Linked DNA regions of Homo sapiens: region 1 is linked to region 2. A link means that fine-mapping ties the variant in region 2 to the expression of a gene that starts in the linked region. Tissue or cell type: sun-exposed skin. Region 2 holds a variant in brackets; the other region holds the start of a gene. All regions are shown on one strand. Distances are from middle to middle.

Region 1 (15,699 bases), 39 kb after region 2:
AGGCAAGGACTCCTCAAGGAGGAAACTTACCCAGCTCACCTGGTGATAGCCATGCCAACTACTTTGGAAATGCGAAGTTACGGAAAAAATTCTCACTACTCTCAAAACACTGAAGAAAAGGCTTATTATTTTTTTTTTCTGGCTGTAGAGAAGTATTGGATGTTTTTAGAAAAGATTTTTCTCCAGATTTGTGTTTGCTTTTCCTTCAGTGTGTCTCTCTGTGTTTCTCTGAGTGCAGCTTTATATTTTTCAAAGCAGTTCCCAGCCAGTATGTCTGGCCTCGCAAACAACATCCCCAGGGAGGCAGGCAAATAAAAGCTCGTCATCCCCGTTCTAGGGAGAAAGAAATGAGGCACAGAGAAGGCAGGTGATTTTTCCAAAGTCACACAGCAGAGACTGGATTTGGCATTCTGAGGACTCCCAATCTATGTCCTTTTAGACCCAGCAGAATGCCTAGGATAAGCTGGGCACTGCCCTCAGTGTTTGCTTGCATTCACCTTCTTATCCCTTGAAACATACTCATCAGGCAAGTGCTATGATTCCCACTTCCTAGATCAAGAAACAGACTCAGAGGGAGAGAGGAACTCACCAAAAGTTGTACGGCTGCTCAGTGGCAATGTCAGAATTCGAACTTGGGTCTGCTTCCTCCGAATGGGGGTCCGAGGGAGGGTGGCCTCGGTTGGCAGAGGTATTAACCTGTAGAGTGGGCAAGTCACTTTCTCTCTTTGAGCCTCACCTCCTCATCTGACACAAAGCACCGGGCTGTGGCAGGGACCACAGGACCCAGCTCATCTCTGTGCCCCAGTGCCTGTCACAGTCCCTGGGATCCACTACATGCTCATTAAATGCTTAGTGAGTAGGCACACGAGGCTGCTCCCATTGTGCTGGTGCAAAGCAGGAGTATCATGTTTTGCTTCCTTTCTTGCAGTAGGAAAGGCTGGAATCCCAGTGGGACCTTTCTGTTTTGGGGTGTCTCCCCACCAGCACTCCTCTGCCTCTTTTCCCTTCTTCCTCTCTGAGTCACCACCTGCCTGACAGTGCTGGTCTTTAGCCCTAAATATAGAGCACATTTTGAGGCATAAAATGTCCACAAATGTGAGCAACATAGCTGCAGCCCACTGCCCTTGGGTACCCTCCTCCTGGGCTGACCCCAGGGTGGCCGCCCCAAGAAGCCCTGAGACTGGCGACCCCTGCTTGGCCCTAGTGTGGATCCAGAGGCTGCACTCTGCAGGAAGTCATCAGCCTGGGGCCCCATGGGCCCACACTGCCACCAGAGCCCAACTTCCTTTCCTTATTGGCACAGGGCTGCCACCTCACACCTCTGACTTTCCTCATCCCCCAGCCAGGCTGAGCTGCCTCCCAGAGCTGGAGCTGGGCCCAGAGAGGGAAAATGACTTGTCCGGGCCACACAGCCAGCAAGAGGCAGGGCCAGGCTTGGACAGGGAATCAGCACTCTGGCAGGCTTGGTGTGAGTGCCGAGGGAGCATGGTGGAGCTGGGAGCCCCTCCCCATCTAGCATGTCTGCCCTGGAGGCCTCACCTAAGCCCACAGAAGCACCTCTCCACAGCGCCAGTCTCTCAGAGGCACAGGGTGCCAGGGCCAGCCTGGCAGAGGTCCTGGCATGCAAGGAGGTGAGCAGAGAGTGCTGAGGGCTCCCTTCCCTTCACACCAGCTGGCCCCCAGCCTTGCTGGGAGGACAAAGCAGAAACTGGGGCCTGGTAATGCCTCTAGCAAAAGTGGAAAGGAAAGGGAACCCCAGAGCCGCTTGGAGCCTGCACTGGGTCCTGTCCTGTCTTGGGAAGGACCTGCAGAACAACACCTTCAGAGACAGCAAAGGAGCAGCCTGGGGAGAGGCTCCCGTGGCAACCCGCTGGGTATGTACACAGAGGGGAGGCAGGAGAGGAGGGTCCACTGAGTGGGAAGCACCAGGCAGTTTCCCAGGATTCTTGGGGCCAGTCAAGCTGGGTCCACATGAATCAGAAAAGAGGGAGGAAGGGGAGGCTTTGCTGGGGACGGTCGGGGGCCTCCACTCCCCTCCCCGGGTGATGAAGCATTAACATCCCACACGCAGGAAGCTGATGTAATTCATGCGTGTGTGCACCCATGATGGCCTGGGTGTGGGTGGGTGCATGTGCGTGTCTGCCAGGTTCATTTTTAAGGGCGTAGGGCATCCTCGTGTTCTTCCTGCATGCGCGTGTACCATGTGTGCACCCTGGAGGAGATAATGGAGGCAGACGACAGAAGACGAGGGCTTCTGAAAAGGCTCTTCTCCTTGCTGACAACCTCCGTCTCTCTGTGTGTACACACGTGCCAGCATCTGGATGGTGTGACTCTCAGTGCTTGTGTGTCAGGCAGAGTCGGGGGCAGGGGTCTTGGCCTGGGTGTGCCCGTGTGTTCCTGTGTCTGGGTCTCAGGGTATCTGTCAGTCTAACTGTATTTGCGTTTGTGTCTGGCCGTGCTCAGGTCTCGGTTGTTTGCACAGCACATGCGGCTGCTCAGCAGCCTCTGACAGCCAGGACAAAGGCCTCCGTAGACAGATGGCAGCATGGAGGACAGATCTGCCCGAGGAGTCCTCAAAGGGCCTCTTGGCCCCAGAATTTGACAGCAGGGCAGGGGCAGGGCCAGGTGAGAGGGAGGTGGAGGCCCTGCTGTGGGAGCCTGAGGCCTAAGTGGCAGAGACCTCTCTCCCTGCTGCCCTCCAAGAGGCCAAAGGAAGAATCCTTCTTGTCTCCTAAGGGTGGAAGGTAGTTAGAGCCAGGAGAGGGGCCTCCTGAGACCCCTGCCAGGCAGGCACCTTGGGAAGAAGAGAAGAGGAGAGGGCTTTGCCCAAGCAAGCTGGGAAGGTCCCAGGGTGAAAGCACCATTATGGTGCTCCACGGGACAACCCTCCCTCCATGGGAAGGGGTGGCAAGGCAAGCCTAGGACTCTGGACCCTCTCCTCAACCTGACCCAGCTTCCAGCCACAGGCACCCTCACCTCCTGGCAGCAAAGGGGAGCAGGTCCACATGGACCACTCCACCACGGCGTTCACCCTTCCTCCTCTCCACCGCTGTGGAGATCTTCTCCCATCAAGAGTCAGAGTACCACGATTCTAGACCTTGCTGAAGGTGACTAGGTGACCTCAGGCAGTTCATTTAGCCTCTCCGAGCCTCAGTTTCCTCACCTGTGCAATGGAGGCTTCAGCGCCTGCCCTGAAATATTGCTGTGAAGGGGGAAATTGCTCGTGCCACCTGAGGATTAATCATTACCCTGGAACCCTTCCCAAGGCCATCAAGGAACACGCACCCCTTACCAGACCTTCCAGCTGCTGGGGGCTCTCAGAGTGAGGCTGAGGTCATGGAGAAGGGAATGGGGGGCCCCCATGGCCAGCTGGACCTGATCACTGCCTCCCCACTCAGCCACAGCCCTCAGGGCCCTGTGCCAGTCCAGAAGCCCATTCAGGGACACCTTTGGCCAATGTTCTGTTTCATCTGCGAGGCAACCTTCCCCAGTGCCCCAACCATAGCGTTTTCCCCCAAACACCCTCAGGAAGGAGGGACCACTACCTGTGCAGGGGGGGCCAGGAGCCTCCTGAGAGCCTCATATGGGGAGGAAGTGGTACCATCTCACCCCCATTGCCTTTCTCTCCTACTTCCACCTGGCCAGCTTCCCTCAGTGCCCCTCCTGCCTCAGTGCCCCTTCCCTCAGTGTCCTTCCTGCCTGCCGCCCCAGGGGCCTGACCTCTGACTTGGCAGGGAGGGGAATGGAGCCCGGGGACAGAGGCCAATGAGCCCTGAGAACAGTGGATGTTCTTCCTGACCCCACCACCGGGCCTGTGCTATGACCCCAACAAGGACTCCGAGGGCATGCACAGGCTGGGGTCTGTTATGGTAGGGAGGGGGCCGCTCACCTCCGGAGACTGTGTGTGTGTGCAGGTGTGCGTACACAAGGTTTCTTCCCCAAGCCCAGGCGCCCCGCAGCTGGCACCAAACCCTGCAGGGCACGGAAACCGCCCCGTGAATTCCCACCGAGTCCTCAGATCCTGCCGAGCCAGGGGAGGCGACGAGGGGGCGCCCAACTTCGTGACGCGTGTGCCCCGCTCTGCCGCGGGGGTCAGGGACAGGGGAATGCGTCCTGTCTCTGGGGATGCAAGGACATCACCGCCCTCCCCGCTCAGGGTCCTTGATCTGAGGCCCCCACTTCCCTCCTCTGAGGACAGGAGCGCCACCCTCTGGGGGGCGCTAGGGCTTGGGCCCCTCCCCAGGGATGGAGGAAACGCGCCCACTTCCCACAGTCCCTCCTCTAAACCCCAGGCGCCCCCACCTCGAGGTGGGCGGAAAACTGGACTCCCCACCCACCCAGGGGGGTGGGACCAAAGCCCCCTGGCCGCGGCCTGGACCAAGTCCAACAGGCTGGGGGTTCAGCCGGCTCAGTCCAGGCCTCCCCCCACTTCTCCAGCTGCTGTCAAGACCGGGCTGCGCGAGCCCAGCTGCGCCCACCCCTCGCCCCTGGAGACCCGGGTCCCCCACGCGTTCGCCCCCACCCTCCGTCCCCGCCCGCCCGCGCGGGGTCTTCGCTGCGAGCCGACGGGAGTCTGGACACCTCTGTCCCCTTCCCCTTTCCAGGGCCGCAGCCCTGGCGGGGCGCACTCACCCAAGGGCCTGGGCCGGGGGCGTCCTGGGCTCGGCACTCTGGTGCCCGCGGCCGCCGCTGCAGCTCTGCTCAGATGCGGCCGGCGCTCGCCGCCGCCGCAGTTCGGGGAGGGGGACGTCACATGACCGCGGAGCGCTCCTTCCCCGGCGCCGCTCCCCACTCACTGCGGAGCCCAAGCCGCGGGCGCGGGAGCGGCGGGGAGGCCCCCGCCCTGCCGCCCCGCCCCGCCGCAGGTCCTGGAGGAGGGTTCTCGGTGCCCCCATTTTACAGGTGGGGAAACTGAGGACCAGAGAGGGGCAGGGACTGGCTCAAGGTTACACAGCTAGACAGTGGCAGAACCTGGGCGACAGCCCAGCTGTCCAGGCAACAGCTCATGCTCCAAGGGGACTGGGACAACTTCTGGATCAAGTGGAGACGTCGGGATAGGTGGGGCCCACGGCCCCCATGGGCTCCGCTTGTCTGCAGGCGCGGGAGGAAGGCGCACAGGCTTCGCTGGGCGAGAAAGCTGCTGTGCCCTGGCTGACGCCCTCCTCACCCGGGCGCTCGGCGCGCTTCCTGGCAGAGGCCACGCGGTTGACCCTCGCCAGCCCATTCGCGGCTCTTGGACTTTGTCTCTGGACTGGGCAGCTCGCCCCCGCCCCAGCCTAACCCGGGCCCAGGGCGGGTGTGGGGAGGGGAGCCACAGGCTACGGAGAAGTGGAAGGGAGGCACCCGGAAGAGAGTGGGATCAGAACAAGAGTGAAAACCCAGGCAGGGAGGGGGCGGCAGAGATCACCTCGGCCTGACTTCCAAGGCCCAGGGAGAGTTAGAGACTTGCCCAAGGTCCACAGCAAGTGAGCGGCCTGCCCACTCGAGTCCCTTCTTTGATGGTCAACAGAGCCTGAGGCTCCTGTGCCCCACTCCCCACCAAGGGGGAGCCCTCACCCACACCTCTTTCTGTTCTCCACTGAGCTCCCTCCCCGGGGAACAGCCCACATGAAGCAAAGAAACACGCAGTGGGTCGGCAAGGCCAGAACTGGGGACAACGGGTGAGGGGTATGGTTGGTGGCTCCAAGGTCATGAACTCGTCACAGAACACTCGTGTTCCAGGGGGATCTCTGAAATCTCTGGATCTCACCCCAATGTTCTAAGAACTGGGAAAACAGGCTGCAAAAGGTACAAAGACAGACCTCTTTCTCAACCATTTCGAATTGGTGGGTCAAGCCGACAGGGCCCTCCAAGGTCAACAAGTCCAATAGGCCCACTTGACAGATAATATTTAGGGAGGGGAAAGTCCAAGACATGTACTCAATATATTTCTTGAGCATCTACTGTGTGCTTAAAACCACAACTGTTACTTCCAGCTCCCACTATTTTCCCGGCCACATGGGCTGCATTTCACAAAAGGAAAGATCCGAGGTCTTCAGCAACTCTTACATCAGCCTCTGGAGGATCTGAGACATGCAAGCCTCCGGGTTTTCAGTCCCATAGGGGCTGGGGACCAGAGCCATGTTTTCCGGTCAAGACTCTAATCCCCGTGGAGAAAAGGTGAATAAGGGGGAATAGCAGGAAATGCCCCACCCTCTTCCCACGCATCCACCCACCTGTGAAAGGGCAGAGGGGAAGGTAGATCAGGCACTTGTTCTTTTCAGTCCTCCCTCCAGCAAGCTTCCCTAGCTGTATATGGGAAAGAGACCCCAGCCCAGGGGGGTTTCTCAAACTTCTAAGAGTGCAGGAGCGGTCTGTAGACTCAGATTCAGATTCAGTGGGCCTGGAGCCTGAGCTCCTGCATTTATAATGAAGCTTCGTGGCTGCAGACATCCTGAGCAGCACTGGTAGTACAAGGCAAGTTGTCAGGGCAGGAGGAAGACTCCTGCGGTATCACATGCTCACTCATGGACCACCCAACCCGGGGGGCCCTTTGATCTCCTGCCTAGGAATACACCAGGACTATATAGTTGGCTCAAACACTGTAATAAAAAGGCAAGAAGTTGAATGAGGCTGGCCGAGGCGCTTCTGGGGATGATGGTGAAGGGACTGTGGGGCATAGCAACTGCCCTAGACAGGTATGTCCTGCAGGGCTCTGGTCCTGGGAGATGCTTGGTCAAATACATCCTACTTAGGAAATGCCAGCAGAATGCCTATAGACCTTCAAGGGCAGCATGTACTGGGTGGGGCTGGCTCATCTTCAGCAGGGGCGGGGCTCACAGATCTCAGAAGTACATGGATTCCAGGATCCTTTTAAGCACCATCTCTCTACCCATCCTCTCGCTTTTTTATGCATTGCTCCCTGAATTCAATTCTGAGCACAATCTTCATGCTTCTTGCTTCCCTAACTCCTGTTCCAAAAGGGCCCCTTTCTCCTCCACGCTTTAAGACAGAGACCCTCAATTCTGGCCAGGCATTGCTGATGGTACATCCCAGAGTGCTGAGTGGAGACAAAGGTGTCCCACCTGAGCTGGAGGGAGGGGGCAGATGGAGGCACTGGAGATGCAGAAATGCAGCAAGCCAAGGGGTACAGCTGTGTGACCTCTTCATGGTCCCATAACCTTCTGGAGTCTGGACCTGCAGACTCCAAGGTCCTTAAGAGCTCAAGAGCCTATTAGCCTGGGGGTACTGAATGTCCCCGACCCTGGCTGAGCAGACCAAAGAACGAAGTCTCTTCTATGCCAGGCGTCTCTATTTCTTCTTTATAATCAAGGAGCTTTTCAATTACAGCATTTTCCCCTTTACAGAAAACCTCCCTCAATGCAAGAGGCTTATAATCTCCCATGTGTCCTGGGGGGCACCATTCTGAGACTGTCAGGGCCCCTGGCGAGGAGGCAGCACGTGCCGTAGGGGGCTGGGCACAGAGCTTGGCATGCAGCCTAGCTACTGAGGGGGAAGATTGGACAAAGGCCCCGGAGCTTTGCTTTCCCTGTCCTATTTCAATCCAAACCACTCAGGACTGACCACTCACGCATGGCTGCCTCTGGGCACAAGCCTTGTCTCAGACACTTAATACATTGCGACCCAGCCACCATCTCTGTGCTCCCTATCACTGAGAAATGAAAGCTGGCTTTAAAAATCTGGCATCCAAAAAGGCTGGAGAACGAAAACATGGGTGGCACCACGGTAAACTCCAAATAATGCATGAGACTGCAGGTGAGGGAGGGGGGAACAGTCCTAAAATGGGAATGATGCCTCTTGGAAATAACTCCCCATCTCTGCCCGCCCACTCCTTCCCAGTCAGATCAAATGGGAGAAAAACTGAGATAGGAACTGCCCACCAGAGCAAGTAGGGGAAGAAAACCCCAAAGCAGCAAGTCCTCAAGGTGTGCTGTCCACAGAGCCACAGGTAAGGTCTAGGAAAGGCCGGCAAGGAGGGTGGGCTTCAGGGGCGGCTTGGAGCAGAGGACAGTTCCACTCTAACCACAGCAAGGCAGGATGAAGAGTGGCAGTCGGCGCCAGGGCACACGCATCAGGGAAGGGCCAGCGGCCCCCGTCTGGGTGGGAGGCTGCCAACCTGGTGCAGCAGACATGACAGAGACTACCCCTGGGGTTAGAGGACTTTGGATCATGAATAGTTAGGAAGTCCCTGTTTTGAGGACAAAGAAGAAAAGCCTGAAGGTAGGGACAGTACTGGTCAAACCAAAGTAGTAAAAAGAGCTCTCCCCCAAGGGGCCACGGGAAAACTTCTAACAGATTCCAAAGTAGTCATTCATTTTTCCTTACTGAGGATGTATCATGCGGGCCGCTGTGGGAATACAGTGGTAAGATGGCCAGAGCCCTGCTCTCAGGGAGCTACAACAGTCTAGCACTAATTAGGTTGATTCATTTGTGGGGGACTGAATGGTTTTAGGTGCAGACATAAAATCCAGCCTGGCCCTAACTCTGGCTTCCAGTACAGGAAATAAACAGTATACTCTAGTTCCAGAACTCCACAGTCTAGCATGACTTGGAGCCTCCTTCATCCAGAGAACAAGTGACATGCTGTGGATGAGTGAGAAGATGCTACAAAAACTCCAGATAAACCAACCAAAGAGGCAGCTCAGAGACTAATAAAACAAGAGAAGTCCTGAGAGGTAGTCCTGTTTGGTAGCTTTCCAAATGTACTGCCTGGAGCTTCCTCAAGGGAGTAGGTGGGTGTGGGAGGAGGCCCCACTATCTACTTCCACGGAGTTCATGTTTGACAACTTCTACACATCCCACTTCCTTTCAGAGAGAACGCCGAGGCTCAAAGGGGAACAGACTTGTCCAGGATCATAAAAGGAACTGGTTGCAGCTTAGCATTCCCTTGGTTACAAAACACCAGAGCACCAGGGAAAGGAAAACCCAGATAGAATTGTGCAGAGGCCAGTGTGCCAGCAGGCAACAATCCAACCCAGGCAGTGGCTGCGTCGGCCTCCTGGCCTCCCTGGAGTGCGTGCCCCACTTCCTGTGGCTGAGGGCCTGCCTCGCCTGGCAGCACTAACGCAGATTTGGAATTCAAGCAGCCATTCCAGCTGCTGTTATAAGGCTGCCTCCCTCCCTGTCCGAGAGCAATTTCACTTCAAAGGCCCTCCAAGTCCTTGAAAGCAGGGTTTTTTTCCCTTTTTTTTAAAGCATGTTGGGGAGAAACAGATGATGCCCTCTATTTGAGATCAATACAGTAATTATGTTGGACAAGCTCTTAGGGCTAACTTGAGGGGGAATTCACAGCCTCATGAATGACAAGCGTGAAAGCTCATGGAATGAGAAGGACCAGCCTGCCACCCGTGTTTTGCTTGTGGGATGCAGCCCATTCCGCAGTAGGATCCCCTTCTGCAGCAACCTTGGTCTGGTCTCTGCTGGGTGAGACACAGCAGAGGCCCAATCCACTACAAGCTGGTGCAGGTCCCAATTCTAAAGTCAAACCAGGCCAGGCGCGGTGGTTCATGCCTGTAATCCCAGCACATTGGGAGGCCAAGGTGGGCAGATCACTTGAGATCAGGAGTTCGAGACCAGCCTGGTCAACATGGTGAAACCCCATCTCTACTAAAAATACAAAAATGCTGGGCGCGGTGGCTCATGCCTGTAATCCCAGCACTTTGGGAGGCTGAGGCGGGCGGATCACAAGGTCAAGAGATCGACACCATCCTGGCCTACATGGTGAAATCCCGTCTCTACTAAAAATACAAAAATTAGCTGGGCGTGGTAGCACGTGCCTGTAGTCCCAGCTACTTGGGAGGTTGAGGAAGGAGAATCGCTTGAACCCTGGAGGTGGAGGTTGCAGTGAGCCAATCCAGCCTGGTGACAAAGCAAGACTTCACCTCAAAAAAAAAAACAAAAAACAAAAACAAAACAAAACAAAAAAACTAGCAGGGCGTGGTGGCAGGCACCTGTAATCCCAGCTACTCGGGAGGCTGAGGCACAAGAATCGCTTGGACCTAGGAGGCGGAGATTGCAGTGAGCCGAGATTGTGCCACTGTACTCCAGCCTGGGTGAGAGAACAAGACTCAGTCTCAAAAATTAAAATAAAATAAAACAAAGTTAAACTAATGTCACTTTGAAGAGGTCATACAACTCCTGGCAAGCCACAATTCTGCAACCTCCTCCTTCCTAAAATCTAGTGAGGCTCAAAGAGATATTAAACCTTACCACATGCAGAAATCTCACATGGTTAGTATCTTGTATTTATTTGATAACTGGTTCTGTCATTTGTTGGGGGAGGGGAGACGTAAGAAATACCTGTTTCGTGTACTCTACCCTTGAACGATATTATTCACTAAGTATCACCAGGTAAATAATGAAAAACGCAATTCTCAGACCAGGAAGTGACCTCTGAGCACCAGCCACAGGCCTCCGCATGGCTTTGCTTCCCAGTGCCCGCAGAGCCATGCCTCGGCAGCTCGAGACATCTGTTCCTGATGTTCTTAGCAATGACAATCAAAACAACTGAAGCTGCCCCTTTGGGGCAGAAACTGCCCATCACGGAGACATAAATCTTCAACATGCATTCTAAGCGTGTTTCAAATACCTTTCGACATGACCCTGCAAAAAAAACACCGAATTGAGAAGGCTTGCAGTTTGGCCATTGGCTTCATTATTCTTATGGGCCAGGAGAAAAGATTTATGTGACAGGATGGTCGAACACCTGTCTAGTTATCATTTTAGTTGGAAGGGCTTGAAGTAAAAGGTAGTTTCTAAAGTTCTCAGAGAAGATGCTCCAGGTAGCTTTGCTAGGTGGTTACAAGGCCTCTTTTTGAAGACTTGCAAAAGAGATTCCAACAGCATTTCCTCAGAAAGGCAACAGTTCTTCTAAATGCAAAGAAAAATACAAAGCCTTTTACCTCAACAATATTTATTACTGTTTAATCCTCTGAGTGTAGTAAACAAAAATAGCAAATACTGCTATTTTGAGAGATGAAGAAATTAAGGTAAAGCAAGATTAAGTCACTTTTCTTGGTTACAAGGTAAATGGTGAAATTATCTGTAACACAGGTGGCCCAACTTCTACAACTCCACACTTTCAACACTTGCCTGTATGTTTATGTGCTATCTGGATAGCTAGCAGACTCCTTAGCCCAATTAACAGCCAGAATGGAAAAAAAAAAAAAAAAAAAATCCAAGGTTTGAGATATATGGGATGGAGAAGTGGTTTTGTCTGCCAATGAGACTGTCTACCTGGCACACACTACCTGACACAGAAATGTTGCTCAGGGAAATCAACAAAGTGCTACCTACCATTTTACAAATGTTTATAATTTGTACTTTAATGAAAAATAGAGGGTTCGAATAATGTTGATAAATCCCCAGCCAGTATTTCTGCCTACAGAATGTCTAGGAGATGGGTGTGTGTGTGTGTGTGTGTGTGTGCGCGCGCGCGTGTGTGTGTGTTTTGGGTGGGGGTGGTGATGCCAGCTTTCAGAAGTAGAAATGTTGTTGACAAAACCCTGTACTCTGGGGTGGGGGTGGGAGTATGGGGCGTTATCACAGACATGCACATTTTTTTTTTGTGACAAGGTCTCACTCTGTCGCCCAAGCTGAGTGCAGTGGTGTGATCACAGCTCACCGCAGCCTCGACCTCCTGGGGTCAAGCAATTATCCTGCCTCAGCCTCCAGAGTAGCTGGGACCACCGGCATACCTGGCTAATTTTTGCTTTTTTATAGAGATGAAGTCTCACTATGTTTCTCAGGCTGGGAAAATCTTCTTAAAATGAAAACGCTGGCTTTTAATCTGCATGCACTCTGTTCGCAGTCCCCTATTAACACTGAATGAGCTGAGGACTAAAGTACCCAAGAGAAAGGATATGATTCTGCCCCATGATTCGGTAACAGGAAAGACAGGCTTTCTTGCTCATTTCGCTTCAGCGGTTTGTTTAGACAGAGATAAATCATCCCTTGGGTTTTTAAAACAGGTTATTCAACCTGAGCATTAGATTCCAATATTAACCAGAGTCTGATGAACAGATCTATGACCACATAGACCAACCAAAAGCACATTTAAAATAACCAAAAAATTCACTATGGATTATGCTCCCACAGAAATAAAGGGACACTCATATCTTTTAAATTTGGCAGGAAGGTAACAGTAATTCTAAACAATAGAGTTCATAAATACACAGAAAGATACTTACTCCCCAGGAAATGAAGACACCCAAATGCAGCCTATATTTCAGTTCGTGGTGACAATCTGTACCAGTGTAGTATGCTGAACACATTCGTTTCAGATTAAAGAATGGTCAGAAATATCAAGGGGAAAAGACCCAAGCTTCATAATACCTTATACCGGAGACTGATCTAATATAAAAAAGTACACATGCATGGCATTAGAACCCCAACACAAAGAGTCTCTGAACTTTTCACAGTCCAGAAGGCAAATGGACTCCATCTATTCATAATTACAGACGAAACGAGAATCGGGCTTTAGGTCATACCCTTTACCTGTTTTTCCCTGTACCAAGTGAGAAGGGTGGCAATGCAAAACCATTCAATACAAGCATACGTTTCTTTGCAACTCTGCCTACTATGGGTGGGAGAGGCCCCAAGCCCAGGGTTTCAAAGAGTACAGGAGTGGCCTGTGGATGCAGATTCCGATTCAGCGGGTCTAGGGCCTGAGCTCCTGCCTTGGTAATAAAGCTTCACAGTGTCACTGGAGCCGCTGGGCTGCAGTTACTTTCAGCAGTGCTGGCAGAACAAGGCAAGTTGTCAGAGCAGGAGGAAGATGACCCTGAGCCAAGGGCAGACTCTTGCAGCATCACCTGCTCACTCGGTGCCCACCCCACCCCTGGACAGAGATAATAAAGAAGCCAGTACTCAGAGCAGGTACCACCAGCCTGAAAGATTTACAAAAGGCTGTTATTTCGTAGCATTGCAGGAGGAAAAAATACCCAAGTAACAAATTTCAAAACTGTTATCAACAGCAAATTGGGGAAAATATATCAGATTTCTGGGGGCTGCTAACATGTTTATGTCAATCCCCAAAAAGAACCTTCTCTGGCCAACAAGCTTCTTTGTAAGGAAAAGGAAGTGGCTTCAATCAAGCATTGTGCGAACTTTTATAAAAGTCTTTACCTTGGGAAAGAAGAAGTTTGTGTTATTAGTTTTAGGCTCCTGCATTCATTTCTTTGGAGCTAATAAAACAATGAGATCTAAAAATCAGGATCCATCAGCTCAACTTCAAGTCCTTCCCCTGTGCCAACCTCAAGGCCAGAACAGTTGGTCCCTTGGTTCCACTCCTAGGATGGTTTCTCAGGGGGCTGTGTGCAGCTCTCACCTTCCCCCATAGATAGGCTCATTAGAGACCCCCTGCCTCCTCAGGGGACACAGACTGAAGACATTAGAAACACAGAGGGGAAACACAAACACGAAGTTAGAATTTTACCAAATGGCCGTAATTACTCTGACAAAAGGAGCTATTCAAAAGGGATGCTGCCAAGGTTATCGGGTCTCAAATCAAAATCTGCCTTCCCCATCCATGATCTGAGTTCACATTTTCATGAAAGGGGGAAAAAGCCTTGCACAAACCCAAGGCCAAGAAAAGTGTTAACAAGAGAGATGCCTAAGCTAGCATCTCAGCCACAAACTTACACAGACGGACTCAACAGAGAAAACTTTTTTTTTTTTTTCAAAGGAAAAACTCCAGTCTTAAGTTCAATTAAAAAAACCCCTTCAATATTCTTAAGAATATTGCTTCGGTTACGTGTTGCTAAGAATGATAATCCTGAGTTGGATGGACAGCACATCCATATACTTTTTTCCTTTTTTAAACAATGATCTAAGAGACCCTCTCAGGGCATTTTGGAATAATGCTTTCAAAAAGAGAACTGAGGTCCAAGAAACAGTGACATGGAGGACAGGAAGAACAAATTTTATAGAAACCTTGTGTTATCCAAATGTACTTCAGTCTGATTTACTCTTCTGATAGGTAGTCAGATTTTTTATTTTCAAACGTGCCAGGTACATTTCCCACTTTTGAATAACAGCAAAACCGGAAGAGGATGCTTTCACACATAATAAATGTTCTCCATCCTTTCTGAAATGCACCAAAGCAAAAAGCCTCTGAAGTCAAAACATGAGACATAATTCCTTGCTCATTGCAGGAGACATGCAGGTGCCCCCTCCTTTACCCAATACCAAGAGACAGACGGCCGGGCAGGTGTAAGGCGGGTGGCGCTGCAGCTGACATGGAGAAGAGTCTAAATCTGAAGACACTTTTCCACACTTAGGACAAGTTCTTCACTTTCATGCTTTATTGAAAGTAGAATATGAATCAAAGACAGGCATTGGTAAGCAGGTTATGTCTCTAAAATTACTTTTCGTTCAGAGCAGAATGTTGTCCCATCTACTTGATACAATCCTTTATGGACCAACGCATCTGGTATGAAACTCGAGCAAGGAAATATAACAGAACTTTATTCCCCTCCCACGACTATAAATCTCATATGTAAACATGATTTACTATTACTGCTACTAAACTTGTTCCGTCTTTACTTGCCCCCTCCCACCCACCACCCCCCTTAAATATAAAATTGGAAACATTTCCTTCAAGTCTGATGTCCATCAGTGCAATCTGCTTTATTTGACATAAGGCATTTGGGACAGTCACGTTTGAATGGATTTCTGCCTTTTGGAAGGGGCATGTAATGGTTTAATTCTTAAATCCACCTTTGCTTTAATGCCCTAACATGTCAAACTCCTCTTCCCCTCTGGTCATTTCTTAGCAGTCAGCAAGTATTCAAAGATTAATGTCCAAGAAGACCAGTACCTGGGAAAAGAAACACACGTGGAGGGATAGTTGTGAACTACAGATTAAAAGTTCATGGATTCCATTTACCAAGAACACATCATCAACAGGGAGCATCAAATTTAATAAATGAACACAGTCGCACCTTGGTGTGGGAGGATAAGACAAAATACCAGCAGACTCCAGGCTCTCCGCTAAATCACATTTTTGTTGAAAGCCATGTGCTTCCTAAGTGTATCTTCACACAAACTAACCAGATTTTATTGATTCTTTCATTTAATGACCATTCTTCTTTTCTGAGAGTTTCACTCTTGTCGCCCAGGCTGGAGTGCAGTGGTGCAATCCTGGCTCACTGCAACCTTATCTCCCAGGTTCAAGCATTCTCCTGCCTCAGCCTCCCAAGTAGCTGAGATTACAGGCGCACGCCACCATGCCCGGCTAATTTTTGTATTTTTAGTAGAGATGGGGTTTCACCATGTTGGCCAGACTGGTCTCGAACTCCTGACCTCAAGTGACCCACCCGTCTCAACCTCCAAAAGTGCTGGGATTACAGGCGTGAGCCACCATGCCCGGCCAATGACCATTTTTCATAAAGACGTTTTTTGCTTTGTTTTGACCCCATCAGGAGTCCCTTTGTAATGGTAGCATGCAGACAACACAGCTGCAGCAAGAGGAAGACTTTATTTTGGCCAGTAGATTTGTCTCTCATTTGCTTTAGCAAGGAATAGCTGGTATGTGATTCAAAGTCATTCCTTAGAAAATCACAACCTGCCAGGGGCTTCTGGAGTGGCCAGCAAAGAATCAAGACAGCAACAGGAAAATCCGAAAACGTCAGAGGTCTGTATTTGATGACTTCTTGAATATTATCGGTGTGCACAACTACATGGCCCAGATGTAGTACG
Region 2 (15,699 bases):
GCCTTTATTCCAGGCCAGAGCTCTCAGGGAGGAGCCTGGTGGATTTTGCCTCTGCTATTTTCTGGCTGTGTGACCTTGGGAAGACCACTTTACTTCTCTGATCTCCTGCATCCTCAACTAGATAATGCCTACTACCCAAGGTTTACTAAAAGGACCAGGTGGCATGATGTCTGTGGGTGTGCTTTAGAAACTGCAAAAAGTACTGCAAAAGTGAGAGCTTGTCACCCCTGCATCAGAGAGGCCCTAACACCAGGCCCTCTGGTCAGACAGCTTGCATCCGGTCGTGGCCCCACCACATCCAACCTGAGTGACTTCGGGCAAGTGACTGAACCTCTCTGAGCCTCAATTTTCTCATCTGCAAAATGGGACTGATTATAGTAGCTATCACATAGTCCAAGGATGAGATGAAATACTGCAAATAAAGCATTAAGTACTCTCTTAGTACACAGTAAGTCTCAATAAATATTAGAGGTTATTTCTGCTATTTGATGTCCTGCATACATTGTTCAGTTATCTATTGCTTTACTGGACTGTGGCTCCTTGAGAGCAGGATCTGTATCAGATTGGTTTCTGGTCGCTTGGCACCCAGCACAAGGCTTGGCATGAAGCAGGTACTGGGCAAACGTTTGATTTTAACGATAATGATAGAGGCTCGTTGACAGGGCTCTTGCTCTGTGCCGGATGCTGTGCCTGGGCCGCCCTGTCTGTACTTTGCAGCAATCTTCACAATGACCCTGTGAAGTGGGTCCTCTCATTGCACCTGGTTTACAGATAAGGAGACTGATGGTGACGTTGATTGTGGAGATGATGAAGATAGCTGGGGGGCTGGTTTATTCCCAGCTGTTTTGCTTAGATTCGCCCTAAGCCCCTCCCTGCCACAGTCTACAGACCTAGGTTCAACGTTTGTGACTGCACCAGCCTCACCCCGGGCTCAGGAGTGGCAACCCCTTAGGAGCTAAACCCCATCAGCATCTGCCTGAACATTTTACCTTTGCCCAAAAGTCATTCTTGGGCCTTTCCCAGCCCTGGGCATGTGTCGGAGGTAGGGGGCAGACCAGGGGCCGTAGGTATGGAGGGGGACACTTACCTTAGGGTAGAGTGAAGGAGTATAGGAGGGAACTAAGTTCACTCGTGACAGGTCTAGTGCCTGAGGGAAGTGCTGGTTCTGCCCATCGCTCCTCCTGGAAGAGAAAGAGTCTGAGGTCAGGGAGAGCCCCAAGCCAGGAAATTTGGGAACTCTGGGAGAGTCACTCTCAGAGCTGGGGGATGTGAGGGAGGATAGACTTCACGGAGGAGAGGGTCATGGGTTCCCCAAGAGGAGGGAGAGGAGGGGCTTCATTAGCAGGGCTACCACACAGGCTTCTCCTTCCCCGGAGATCAGAGACGTGGACAGGGTCTCTCCCCAAGCTCTCCATTAGGCCTCCAGCCAAGCAGTGACCTACTCTGAAGATGAGTAGACTGAGGCAGGGGCACTGAGGGTTGCTGTGGAGGGTGAGCTTTCTGGACTAAGCAGGGTGCCCCCGCCTCTACAATGGACCCCTCCCTGAGCCTCTGGGAGTAGCCGCCTTGGCATTGAGGGGCTACCAGGGCTACCGCTATTACGAATGACAGTGACCGTGACCATAACTGACGCTCATTGGGCCTACCACATGCCAGGCCCTGTGCTGAGCCCTCGTTCTAGGCCCGAGGGCATGGCCTCCTCACCACACTGGTATTCCCACTTTACAGACAGGACCCAGCTGTGCACAGAGGTCACACGGCTGGCCGGCAGCAAAGCTAGCATCTGCATGAGACCTGCCTGAGTCTAAGCCCGGACTCTCTGCCCACACCACACCCTTCCCTGAGGAAAGAAAGCAGGTCTGGCGAGGGTGAAGTCAGCTCCTATCACCCTAAAAAGCCTGCCGAGGCCACCTCTGGGGCAGGGAGAGGAAATGCCCAGTGGTTCCCGGGATCCTGGGGCTGGGCAAGCAGGCCTGGCTTCCGCTGCTGCCTAGGGCCACCCTGACGTGGCTGCACCTCTGCTCAGGTCCCATCAAGAGAGGCTGGTCCCTCGAGGGTGACTCAGATGATCGCTGGTGGCCTACAGCAGGCTTGAGTCAGGCAGAGCCGGGGCTGCCACACCCCAAGAGGGGAAGGACCCGAAAAAGTCTGGCCCAGGAAGAAGACTGAGAAAGCTGTGAGCCTCCCTTCTTCTTTTTTTTTTTTTTTTTTTTTTATGACAGAGTTTCGCTCTTATTCCCCAGGCTGGCGTGCAAATGGCTTGATCTCGGCTCACTGCAACCTCTGTCTCCCGAGTTCGAGCGATTCTCCTGCCTCAGCCTCCTGAATAGCTAGGATTGCAGGCATGCGCCACCATGCCTGGCTAATTTTGTATTTTTAGTAGAGACGGGGTTTCTCCATGTTGGTCAGGCTGGTCTCGAACTCCCGACCTCAGGTGATCTGCCCGCCTCAGCCTCCCAAAGTGCTGAGATTATAGGTGTGAGCCACTGCGCCCAGTCTGAGCCTCCCTTCTAATTCCACTCAGCCCAGCTACTCCAGCAGGAGAAATGGCCCGGAGGAACCATCCACAGCCCCACTTATGCACTGGAGGCCTCTCCACCTCCCAGGAGTGATGGCATCTTACAAGAGGGGTCTGCGCTGGGCAATGCTTGACCCAAAAGGACAGATATGGTGGCAGTGGCATTTCAAGCCTGTGGCATCAGTGTGGGGGAGATAGTCTCAGACACTGACTGGCTAGGTGAGCTTGGGTTAGTGACACAGCCTCTCTCAGCCTCAGTTTCCAAAAACATTCATCGCAGAGCCTGGGCAGCTCATGGGAATTCACTCAATGAAAACTTTCACATCATTTGTTCATGGTAAACTCTGGCTCCCCAAGTTTCACTATTTGTTGAATGACTGAATGAATGAATGAAGGTTGGGAGTCACTGAAGGGTTGTGAGCAAAGGAACATCCCTACGCACAGGTTCCTGCATATTGCAGGGTACACTGACATGGGGAGAGTCTGGAGTGGGAGGGTGGGGACTAAAGAGAGGTCCATAGAAATAGTTACCGGCAGGCTGGGCGTGATGGCTCACACCTGTAATCCCAGCACTTTGGGAGGCCAAGGCGGGCAGATCACCTGAGGTCAGCAGTTCAAGACCAGCCTGGCCAACCATGGCCAATATGGTGAAACCCCATCTCTACTAAAAAAAAAAAAAAAAAAAAAAAAAAAAAAAAATACAGGCTGGGCGTGGTGGCTCACACCTGTAATCCCAGCACTTTGGGAGGCCGAGGTGGGCAGATCATGAGGTCAAGAGATCCCGAGAACATCCTGGCCAACATGGTGAAACCCCGTCTCTACTAAAAATGCAAAAATTAACTGGGCATGGTGGTGCACGCCTATAGTCCCAGCTACTTGGGAGGCTGAGGCAGGAGAATCGCTTGAACCCGGGAGGCGGAGGTTGCAGTGAGCTGAAATTGCGCCACTGCACTCCAGCCTGGCGACAGAGTGAGACTCCATCTCAAATAAAAAAAATACAAAAATTAGCTGGGCACAGTGGTGGGCACCTATAACCCCAGCTACTTGGGAGGCTGAGGCAGGAGAATTGCTTGAACCTGGGAGGCAGAGTTTGCAGTGAGCTGAGATCACACCACTGCACTCCAGCCTGGGCTCCAGAGGGAGACTCCACCTCAGAAAAAAAAAAAGGAGGGGGGAAGGGAGGAAGGGAGGGAGGGTGGCTTCCAGGCAATTCCACTGAGGCTCCCATGGGGACTCTTTAGTGAGACCTACTATGTGACTGGGACTGCGTCAAGCATATACTCTCCCCCAACTACTGTGCAGGAAGGTTGGTGTTATTTCTCTCCATTTTCACAGATGGAGAAGCTGAAGCTCAGAGAGGTGAAGCCACTTCCCCTAGCGAATGGGGGATGGAGCTGGAATTTAAAGTACATGCCCTAGAGGAAGTAGGGATCCTGCAGTGGGGTGGAGGGCAGAGGCTGCCTGGGGGTCAGGAAGTCCTGGGGTAGAAGCCCGGTAAAGCTGGAGTGCTGGGTGCGGCCGTGGCTGCCCAGTGGCGGCTGTTGCTTGTGATCAGGCTAGTCCAGCGGTGCCCTTCTGTCTTCCCCTAGGCTCATATGATAGCCATGCAGCAGTCCCTGACAAACCCCCTTCCAGAACCCTCTCTGCCTCAGTCTCCCCATGTGTAGGTGTCCATTTCACTCAGGATTGCTCATGTGGGTGCAGAACCAGAGCGGCCTCTGAAGGCCAGGGTGCTCTGGCTTGCACCTGGGACCCCATCCCAGGGCCCTTGGCTCTCCAGTTCCTGGCTGGCCACAGTCCTGTCCCCCGAAGGCAACTCCACCTAAAAAGCCACTGCTGAGGCCGTAAGGGGCAGGGGAAGGGAGGGGCTCCAGGATGGGGACAGAGAAGGAAACTGGAGGCTCTGGGCACTGCCTGTCCATCCATCCCCAGACCTGAAGGGGTAGAAGAGGGACAGGAATGACAAAGCCACGTCCTGCCGGGCGTCTTGCATAATCTAATTTAATCCTCACAGTTCCCCAAAGAGGCAGATGTTCAGAAACCTCCTGCTTTCCACACGAAGCTCAGAAAGGTGCGTTAACTTGCCCAAGCTCACACAGGCAATGAGGCAGGCCAGGCATTTGGACACAGGTTTGTTGACTTCAGAGCCCAAGATCTGAACTTTATAACATGTACGTCCAATCCTGTGGACCTCCCCACAGAGCCTTACGACTTCCAGCTCAGGAACACGATCCAGCACCTCAAGTCAAGTCGGAAAGGTAATAGTAACAACAGCAACGGCCGACACAGCTGATACAGAGCTTACTATGTGCAGGCTCTGCTCTACTTTATTGTATTAACTCATTTAATTTGCATTTTTCAAAGGAGGGAACTAAGACACAGAGAGGTTAAGTAACTTGTCCAAGGTCACACACAGTAAATGAAAGTCTGAAGATTTGACCTCCCCCAACATCTGGTTGCAGTGCCCTTAACACTATACCACTGACACTTAGTAAATAGTAGTTGCTCAATAAATACTTTTTTCTTTTTCCCTTTTTTTTTTTTGTTTTTTGAGACAGGATCTTGCTCTTGCTGCCCAGGCTGGTGTGCAGTGGCGTGATCAAAGCTCACTGCAGCCTTAAACTCCTAGGCTCAAGCCATCCTCCCTCCTCAGCCTCCCAAGTTGCTGGGACTACAGGCACCACCATGCCCAGCTAATTTTAGTAGAGATGAGGTCTCCCTATGTTACCCAGGCTGGTCTGGAACTTCCGGGCTCAAGAGATCCTCCCACCTCAGCCTCCCAAAGTGCTGCGATCACAGGAATGAACCACTGCCCCTGACCTTTTGTTGTTGTTAAGAAATGGGGTCTTGCTCTGTCACCCAAGCTGGAGTGCAGTGGCATGATCATGGCTCACTGCAGCCTTGAACTGCTGGGCTCAAGTGATCCTTCCCCCTCGGCCTCCTAGTAGCTGGGACTACAGGTGTGTGCTCGGCTAATTAAAAATAAATTTTTTGTTGTTGTTGTTGAGATGGGTGTCTTGCTGTGTTGCCCAGGCTGGTCTGGAACTCCTGGCCTCAAATAAGCCTCCCACCTTGGCCTCCCAAAGCACTAGGATTACAGGCATAAGCCACTGCACCTGGCCCCAATAAATACTTTTGAAGCAATGAATGAAAGCCTCTTCCCTCCTCACCAGCCCTCTGCCCTTCTCTGCTTCACGTCCTTTCCTGCTCAGCCTTCCTCACCAGCTCGCCCATCTCTGCCCCACCTTTCCCAGCACCCCTCCAATCCCCTTCTTCCTCTGGCCTCTGCAGACCACCCACAATGTGGTCGTTTCCTCCCACTTCACGAACCCGAACCTCTCTGTCCCTCCCCTTCTCTCTCCTATCCCACCCTGGTCTCCTCCTGGTCTTCTCCATTCAGTTCACATCATGGATGTCCCCCTGGTCTCTATCCCTTCCCCACGTCTCCAAAAACCATCCAACCCCCTGGCCTGGCTCAGCTTAAAATGCTTTGCATTCCTCCTGGGCGGCAGCAGCTGCGGGGAGCCCAGAGCATGCCGGGACATGGGGCGCTCTCCCCTCTCCTCCTTCCCCCTGCCATGACCGTGGTCACATCTGTGCAGCACCCTGGAGCTTACACTGGCATTGTCTCATTCCAGAGCCACAGCAACTTATTAAAAATCCAGATGAGGCTGGGCACGGTGGCTCACACCTGTAATCCCAGCACTTTGGGAGGCTGAGGCGGGTGGATCGCCTGAGGCCAGGAGTTCGTGACCAACCTGGCCTACATGGCGAAACCCCATCTCTGCTAAAAATACAAAAATTAGCTGAGAGTAGTGCCACGCGCCTGTAATCCTAGCTACTTGGGAGGCTGAGGCAGGAGAATCGCTTGAACCCAGGAGGCGGAGGTTGCAGTGAGCCGAGATTGCGCCATTGCACTCCAGCCTGGGCAACAAGAGCAAAACTCTGTCTCAAAAAACAAAAACAAAAACAAAAAACAAAAAAGAAATCCAGATGAGATATAAACCTTTTTTCCAGATGAGAAAACTGAGGCTCAGAGAGGTTCAGTGACAAGCCCCAGGTCGCACAATGGGAAAGGGCAGGGCTGAGATGTGACTCCAGTCCAGTGTCCCTTCCACAGCGTGCATCCCACTGTCCTCAGCCCAGGCCCTCAGTCCCGTCACCTGGCCTCCTGCCCCATGACCTCCCATCACGGCCCTGGCTCCTGCAGCCACCGCCAAGCGCCTTCCCTAGGCCCAGCTCCGGCTCTGCTCTGTCTGGCCTGGACACCTGCACGCTGCCTCCTCTGACACATGAAATGGGAGCAGCCAGAGAGGAGGTGACCCGCCCAAGGTCACATGGAAAGCTGGAGCCAACCTGGAGTCTGGGCCAGGCACATTCCGGGGTCACCTTCAGCCCCTGTGTCTGTGTGGCAGCTATCTCTCCCTCTCGGGGAGAGCACCCATCTTTTCCAGGGAAAGGGTGAAGCAAGGGTGTGGGGGAAGGGCCCAGCTCCTAAGTGGGATGGGCCC[G/T]GCCGGAAGCCGCTGCTGACAGCTCCCCGGTTTCTTGGCAACTGTCACTGCACCTCCTCCCCCTCCCTTATCTCTGCATCGAGGTAACAATAATAATCGCACCATCGTGAGTGCAGTTCTTTGTACTTTTCAAAAGCCTTCTTTATCTGCTCACTCCTGGGACTCTCACCGGAACTGGAATGGAGATAAGGCAGTCACTAGGATCCCCAATTGCCAGCAGGGCAAACTGAGGCTTGGAGAGGTGAAAACACGACCTCAAAGTCAGCCAATAAGGCCGTGAGCAGCAGATCAGGGATAAGAACACAGGCCTTCCACCAGTCCAGGGTGGGAAGATCTCAAGAGAGTTCCATACTCTGCAAAACAGCAGGGTCAGCCCAGGCTCAGTGGTTCATGTCTGTAATCCCAGCACTTTGGTAGGCTGAGGTGGGAGGAACACTTGAAGCCAGGGGTTCGAGACCAGCCTGGGCAGCAAAGTGAGCCCTCATCTTTACAAAAAAATTAAAAACCCAGCCCACTGCAGTGGCTCACACCTATAGTCTCAGGCACTCAGGAGGCTGAGGTGGGAGGATCACTTGAGCCAGAAGTTCCAGGCTACAGTGAGCCATGATGGTACCACTGCATTCCAGCCCTGGCGACAGAGCAAGACCCCATCTATACAATGGAAACAGACCAACAAAACATCAGGGTCAGACTCAGGAATGGTTGGGCAGAGGGGGAGACCAAGCACAGGTGGCCAGATGCCTTCCTAGGGTGATTCTCAACTGTTAACCAGCTGGAGGGGTGGTGAGAGGGTCCTGTCTTTTTCTCTCATCTGCAAAATGAGAGATAATGTACCCACCTCATAGAGTTGCTATAAAGTGCTTGTAATTATTATTACTGGCCACTCTCCTGGAGAGCCCAACCTTTTCAGGGCACCAGAAGTGTGGTGGGGCTGTCCTGGGTGGTGGGCTTGGCCCTTTGGCCCCCCGGAGATAGCTGCCCTGGATGGTGGTCTCCCAGTGGGTCCAGCCCCTGCTGACTCCCTCCAGCCTCAACCTCATACCTCCCCTTTCCTGTCCTGCCCCAGCCGCCTGTCCTGGCTCTGTCCTAACCTCCCCAGGCTGCAGGCAGCTTTCCTAACCAGCCACACTGTTCACAGGCACCCCCCCTCTGCTGGGGGTGCCTTCTCCTGCTTTTCTGCCTAGTGAACCATTGATGCTTTGAAATTCAACTCAACCAGGTGAAACTCTGGTGGCCAGGGCAGGTGGTACAGGACCATCAAGGCAAGAAGGCTGGGACCGGGAGCAGGGGAATGGGGATCTGGACAGGTGACAGTGCCTGGAGCAAGAGCAGGAGGAGCCCACCCTGAGGACAGCCACCCACTGCACACAGGCTGGGAGACCGGACACGGAAAGAGGGAGTGGTCTGGAAGGGCGGGGGAGGGGTTCAGGGAGCCAATGAATACAGGGCAGAGAAGAATTTTTTGGGGGCAGCAGCCTGGAACAGGGGCCTGAGGGGTTCCGGCCAGTCCAGCACTGGTCATCAGAAGTCAGGAGGGGAAGGCCTGGGTCCAGTTCCCTGGGGTCTTCCTGGTTTCCAGGAGATCAACCTGGTTCTACCAAGTTCTACCACCCATGTGGGGTGGAGGATGAGGACAAGGGCACAGACCTCCCAGTGAGAAGAGGGCTGTGGAGGGCAACCCTGAGAGAGGCTCCTTTGGATGAGGGCTGGGGGGCTGCCAGAGCCGGGTCTCCTAGCCCTGGGCATCGGGTCTGAGGGGACTCGAATCTCCTGAAACCAGAACCAAGTGGCTGCCCCAGAACTGCCCCCTCCCGGGGGGGGGGGGGGGCCACAGAAGCCCATTGTTTTCTGAGCTCAACCAGCCGGCACTGCCCTCCCCTTGGCTTGCCCCTGTCCCTGCCAAAGTGCCAGGGAAGGTGGCCGGGGCAGCCAGTTGAGCAGGTTTCCAAAGCTAGGTCTGGAGAGGCTGGCCCCCTCTTCCCCAGCCCACTGGGAGCCTAAGCAGACAGGCACAGGCACGGGAGGCTCCTGTGTCCCCTTTCCCTGGGCACCGTTGACCTCTCCTAGGACTCTAGAGGGAGCGTGGCGATGGGGTAGAGGAGCGGCAGGGGGACTATTTGCCATGCGGGCACTGTGATGTCATTCAATCCTTATGACAACAACCCTGACCTCAGGATGCTATCTTCACCCATTTCAGAGATAAGGAGGCAGAGGCTTAGTGAGGTTTATGATGGGCCAAGGGCCTCAACAGCTACCAAGTGACAGAGCTGGCAGGGTCCCCCTGGGGGTGTGGGTGGGAGACTCAGGCCCCAAGCTGGGCAGAGGGATGGGCAGGAAGGTGGCACATGGGGCCGCCACCCTCGCCCCATGCTGGCTGCATGCCGAGACACCCGGATCCCGGAGCTGGGCCAGGCAGAGGCCTCCTGAACAAATAACAGGTTGGCAGCCTAGAGAGGTGGTCACGGGACCGGTCCCTGCCCAGGGCACAGCATCTGGGAACCAGGCCACCCATTTACCTGCTGTCTATCCAGCATCTGTCTCCCTTGCTCAGGTGGCCTGAGCCCCACTGTGGCCAAAACCTGACCCTTCCCACCCCACCGAGGACTTCAGTGTGGACTGACTCCTCCCCTGCACTGGGGTAAGGAGGAGGAGTGACTCTGAGATGACCCGGCCGCAGGGCCTCTTCCTGCCGGGCAACAACATCATCTGCTTCCCTAGCCTGGCACTTTCCAGTTTACAAACTGCCTTTGCCATCAACCCTCTCAACAGCCTCCTGAGGAACACAGAGCAGTAATGCTAATCTCCATTCTGCCTGGAAGAAAACTGGAGCCTGGATGGAGATGGTGACTTCCAAGCTTCCACCCCGAAGCTCAGCCCCAGCTGCTCTGCCCCCTGCCCACGTCCACGCAGGACACAGCTCCCACTGATGGGCAAGTCTGGGCCAGGGTGACCTTCCCAGCACCCGTCAGCCCATACATGGTATTACAGCCGCCTATGCTTTCTGTCTCTCCTCACTCCCTACATTGACCTCATTGTCCCTCCCCAGCCTCCGCAGCCCAGGGGGTCTCCCTTCTCTGAGCTCCAGGCATTCCTTCGCTCACTCACCCACTCGGTCATCTACCCACTCCCCCATCTGCCCTTCATTCCTCTGCTCAGTCATTCATTCAGAACACATGTCCTGAGGTCTGCTCTGGAGTGGACAATGGTGCTGGGTGCTGGGATCAGAGTGGGGTGAACCAGGCCTCCCCAGTCCCAAAGCAGAGCCCCAAAGATACCTGCCTGGACTGTTCCTGAGGAGCCTCTGGCTTCACTGCCTAGACAGTGAGTCCCCCAGCACTGAGGCCTTGCTTAATCCTTTCCTCCCGCTCTGCACCAGCCCTAGCTGGGGCTGGGGTTGCTGCCTCATAGGCTCCAGGCCAGTCTGGTGAGCAGAAGTCCCTGCCCCTCACAACTCCCCAGGCGGGGTGACCACCCAGGCCAAGGCGAAACCCCCACGGGGATAGACAAGGTCACCATCTCCTAACCAAAGGTGACATGGGGAAGCCCTAGCTCTGCCCCCAGATCACAGTGTGTGCAGGATTAAGTCACCATAACCTCTCCAAGCCTCAGTTTCTCTACTAAAAATTGGGTCTCAGGCCGGCTCTCTCATCCTACAGAGGACGAATGGGAGGATGAGAAACTGGAAACTGAGTTCACCAAGGATTGGTTGGAAGCAGAACCCTGAAGGAGGGCTTTCCCAGTGGAGAGGACCTTAGACTCTTCTAAGTCGCTTCTCTTCTCTGAGCCTCAGTTTCCTCAGCTACAAAATGGGAGAGTAACACCAACTTTGCAGGGTTGTTGTGTGGAATAAATTAGGTATTATATGGACAACCTGACTAGCCTAGAGCTGAGGACACAGTAGGTGCTCAATAAATTACAGGCTCCTGCCTAGAGAGGCAGTGTAGCGTCAGTGTGGGCTCTGGAGCCAGATCCTTGAGTGCGAATCCTAACTCTGCCACATAACAGCTGTGTGACCTTGGACAAGTTACTTAACCACTATGAACCTCAGCTTCCTCATCTATAAAATGGGGATAGCAGTGCTGACCTCTGAGGGTTAAATGAGTTCATTGGTGTAAAGTGCTTAACATTCACCATGAGCATTTCTTGGCCTTCCCTTCTCTTCCTTCCTTTCTTCCTTCCTCTGTAGGTGCCTGAGGACTGAGACAAGACTCCTAGGTGGAAGTTGTGAGAAGGTAGAAACGATGGGACAAACACAGCTGCCCAAGAGTAAAGCAACCTAGGCAGGGCATGGTGGCTCATGCCTATAATCCCAGCACTCTGGGAGGCTGAGGCAGGCGGATCACCTGAGGTCGGGAGTTTGAGACCAGCCTGACCAACGTGGAGAAACCCCATCTCTACTAAAAATACAAAAATTAGCCGGGTGTGGTAGCGCACGCCTGTAATCCCAGCTACCCGGGAGGCTGAGGCAGGAGAATCACTTGAACCCGGGAGATGGAGGTTGCAGTGAGCCGAGATCATGCCATTGCACTCCAGCCTGGGCAACAAGAGCAAAATTCCATCTCAAATAGAAAGAAAGAAAGAGAGAGAAAGGAAGAAGAAGAAGAAGGAGGAGGAGGAGGAGGAGGGAAAAGGAAGGAAGGAAAGAAGGAAGGAAGGAGGGAAGGAAGGAAGGGAGGGAGGGAGGGAGGGAGGGAGGGAGGAAGGGAGGGAGGGAGGGAGGAAGGGAAAGCAACCTGAGCAACCTGCCATGTAAGGTACCGAGCTCTGCATCAAGCAAAGGCAGAGTGAGCTTCTCAGAGGTGCAGCCAGGGAGATCTGAAGGTGTGGGAACGGGAGGAGCGGTGGGGGGTTTGACTGGAGGACCTCAAGGTGCCTCCCACATTTGAAATTCTTTTTTTTCTTTTTTTTTTTTTTTTTTGGTGGTGGTTGGGGGCAGGGTCTCACTTTGTCGCCCAGGGTGGAGTGCAGTGGTGAGATCTCAGCTCATTCCAACTTCTGCCTCCTGGGCTCCAGCAAGCCTCCCACCTCAGCCTCCCAAGTAGCTGGGACCACAGGTGCATGCCACCACATCCGGCTAATTTTTTTTTTTTGTAGAGACAGGGTTTCACCATGTTGCCCAAGCTGGTCTGAACTCCTGGATCCAAGTGATCCACCTGCCTCAGCCTCCCAAAGTGCTGGGATTACAGGAGTGAGCCACTGCATCCAGCCCCACATCTGGAATTCTTTGCCTCTTGATGACTCTAGGATCCCTGTAACTGAGGGCAGAGGCAATGGATGTTAAAATGTGCATATTCTTTGGTCCAGCAACCCCATTTCTAGGCATTTATTCTCCAGAAATATAACACCAATGCATAAAGATATATGAACAAAAAAGTCATGAAGCAGGGTTTGCAACCGCAAACATCTGGACGCCACTTCAATGTCCATTACAAGGAGATTAGTTAAATATATCAAACCATGGAATACTATACAGCAATGACAAAGAAGGTCTTTAGTCTTGATGGAAAAGGGGGTTTGAGGCATATTGTTAAGTGAATAAAGCGGGCTGCACACAACAAAAATCTCATTTGTAAAAATTTAAAATTACATGTCAAAGTTTACATGGCTGGCCGGGAGTGGTGGTTCACGCCTGTAATCCTAGCACTTTGGGAGGCCAAGGCAGGCGGATCTCTTGGAGCCAGGAGTTCAAGACCATCCTGGGCAACATAGCAAAACCCCATCTCTACCAAAAAAAAAAAAAAAAAAAACCACAAAAATTAGCCGGGTATGGTGGTGCATGCCTGTAGTCCCAGCTACTCAGGAGGCTGAGGTGGGAAGACTGATTGAGCCTGAGAGGTTGAGGCTTCAGTGGGCCAACATTGCACCACTGTACTTCAGCCTGAGTAACAGAGCAAGATCCTATTAAAAAAAAAAAAAAGAAAAGAAAAAAAGGCCGGGCATGGTGGCTCACACCTATAATCTCAGCACTTTGGGAGGCCAAGTCAGGTGGATCACTTGAGGTCAGGAGTTTCAGACCAGCCTGACCAACATGGTGAAACCCCATCTCTATTAAAAATACAAAATCAGCCGGACATGGTAGCGCATGCTTGTAATCCCAGCTACTCAAGAGGCTGAGGCAGGAGAATCGCTTGAACCCAGGAGGCAGAGGTTGCAGTGAACCAAGATTGCACCACTGCACTCCAGCCTGGGCGACAGAGCAAGACTCTGTCTCAAAAAAAAAAAAAAAAGAGAGAGAGAAAAGGGGCTTGCTGCGTATGGGACCCTGAGGCCCAAAAGCCCTCAGAATTTTGAGTGGGATGAAGCCCAGTTGGGCTGTGTCTGTCTGTCCGTCCTCTTTCTCTTTAAACAAAAACAAAAACAAAAAGAAAGTTTACATGGCTTATCTCTGAGAAGCAGGACCACTAGGAACTTCTGCTTTCTGTGGCAAATACTTTTCTGCACGGTTTGGATGTTTATAATGAACACTTAGTATTTGTGTAATCAGAAAAAAATTAAAGATTTTAGAGAGCTGAGCACTCACTATGACTCAGCTCCCTGAGCACCTGACTGCTTTACCCTTTTCCATCACCTTGAGAGGGAGGTATGACTCACCCCTTATTCCAAGGGGGAGAAGCTGACACGAAAAGAGACTAAACACCATGACCAATGTCCCTGAGCCAGGCGTCACAGAGCTGGGTTGCACCCCCATTCTGGCTGGCTCCCAAGCCCACACTCTTTCCCCTACATTAGGCATTAGACAACCTGCTCCGAGGGTCAGGGAAGAGCAGAGGCAGCACAGAAGTGGCCCAGGCAGCTGGGCCCAGGGATGTGCCCTGTGACTTCAGCTGTCACGTCCTGCAAGCCAGGCCAGCCGGGTTAGCATGTGTGGGGACAGGGCTGTCTACTTCATTTGTAAATGCAAATGTAGGCTCTGCTCCTAGCGCGGGCTCCATGCCCTGAGCTGCCCCAGGCTGGCAGGTGCCCAGCCCCACCCCTGGCACTACCCCCAGAAGCCTCAGGGTCACCAGGCAGGTGGGCACGTCCCAGCCCAGGCCCTTCCCTGGAGCTCTAAATAACTTTCTGTGTTGATCAACCTGTTTGTGGATGGATTTGGCATTGAAGGTCACTTGTCACCTTCTCAGTGACAGCCTGGAAAGGTGACAGTCACACCTGAGTGTGTCTGAGTCTGGATGGGCCAGAGAACAAGACCTGAAAGTCAAACGGAACTGAGTTCAAATCCTGCCTGTGCCAAGCTCTAGCTGTGTGGCCTAGGGAGAGTCCCTTCACCTCTCTCAGCCTCTGTTTCCTCGGCTATAAAATGGTGTTGAGAATTTCTCCCTGCAGGGCTGCTGAGAGCATTAAATGAGAGAATGCACGTGAAAGTACGTCCTAAGCTAGAAGCCACCTTGCACGTGTAGAGAAGAGTTATGACCTCACTCCTGTGGGGGCAGGCGGGGGGCACAGGCACATCTGTGCGGATGTGGAGTGAGCAAGGATCCACCCTGGCTGGACCCCAGGGCCCTGCCGCACAGACTCAGCCGGTGGGCGGGGCAGCGTCTGACACTTTTCCTGGGAGTCGGCACCGGGTGTTCCGCAGCTCTGCCTGGTGGTGCGAGAGGGTGTGTGTGACTCTGTGGGTGAGAATGGAGATGGGAGGCCCCGGCAGGAGCGTGAATGGGTGTGGGAGGGAAAGCGCTTGTGTCGCATGTTTGGATCTGATCACACCACCCACCTGCCTAGAAGGCCCCAATGGCTTCCCGCCGCAAGCAGGATCCAGACGCCCGCCTCACGTGGCCCACGAGGCCCTGCGTGTCTGCTCCCCATCCCCGGCCCCCCTCCCACCCGCCCACTGTCTCTGGCCTCATCCAGGGCTTCTTTCCTCCTTCTCCAGACTCCTTTCCGCTCCTCAAACCCGAGGTGCTCCTTCCCACCTCCAGGCCACTGCACACGCTGTGCCCCCTGCCTGTTACCCCCTTCCCGTCCGCTTGGATCACATTTCAGGTGCTATGTCTGTATTCAGTCTTCCAGAGCCCCCTCCCCAGACCAGGAGAAGCTGCTCCGAACCTGACCAGCTTTCCCAGAAGCCTGTCTTGGGCCTTCATGGATTTACCTGTTGCGTTTGCACATTTCATGGTGTGACCATTAAGCCACTGTCAGTCTCTCCTGCTAGAAATGGGGTTTCTTCAGGTCATGCCTGGGTCTGTTTGGGTCTGATCTGCTGCATGAATGAATGTGTATGTCTGTGCCTCTATGTTCATGATGAAGCTGTCTCTACAAGGGTCAAGTCTATGAGTGTGAGTAGGGAAATATGTGTGTGTGTACATGTAATGGGTCATCTCAAAGAACCTTTCCTCAGCCTGCAGGCAGCTGGGCTGGGAAAGGCCAAGGCAACCTGGGGCCAGTGCCTAGGCTGGCTGGGGTGAGGGGAGAACAAGCAGCAGTTCCCTTACCCCCGACTAAAATAGGTCCAGGGTCTTTGCGCCAGGTAGATCCAGTCAGGTGGGCTCCAGGCTGGAGGCCTGACTCTGCCCTGCAGTGAGCTCCACCCCTGCCTGCTCCTACAGGTTGGAGCCCAGCCTCCTGCCTGCACAGCCCAGCTCACTTGAGACTCAAGCCAAGCCTGGTCTTCCATGGCTGCCCACACTCCCCACCACCCCACCGGGCCTGTCTTGTGGGCAGCAGTTATTTTTT

Evidence for each region. PIP is the estimated chance that this variant, and not a neighbour inherited with it, causes the effect.
Region 1: it holds the start of RAP1GAP, and the variant in region 2 is the best candidate, but not a certain one, in a credible set for the expression of RAP1GAP in sun-exposed skin (GTEx, PIP 0.85).

The regions. Positions count from the first base shown.
Region 1 is chr1:21,664,622-21,680,320 of GRCh38, forward strand. It overlaps RAP1GAP (RAP1 GTPase activating protein), which reads right to left and starts at 4,736. Exons shown (of 25, transcript NM_002885.4): 1 at 4,633-4,736. USP48 (ubiquitin specific peptidase 48) reads right to left here. Exons shown (of 27, transcript NM_032236.8): 27 at 13,677-14,818. The coding sequence ends at 14,796. RefSeq lists enhancers at 1,437-1,937, 5,456-6,655 and a silencer at 4,658-4,807.
Region 2 is chr1:21,625,217-21,640,915 of GRCh38, forward strand. RAP1GAP (RAP1 GTPase activating protein) reads right to left here. Exons shown (of 25, transcript NM_002885.4): 3 at 1,088-1,181. Among named protein-coding and RNA genes, the nearest start is that of RAP1GAP, 36 kb to the right of the region's middle. RefSeq lists enhancers at 6,556-7,524, 8,629-9,377, 9,378-10,126, 14,426-15,255. The variant G/T (reference allele first, on the strand shown) is at 7,030.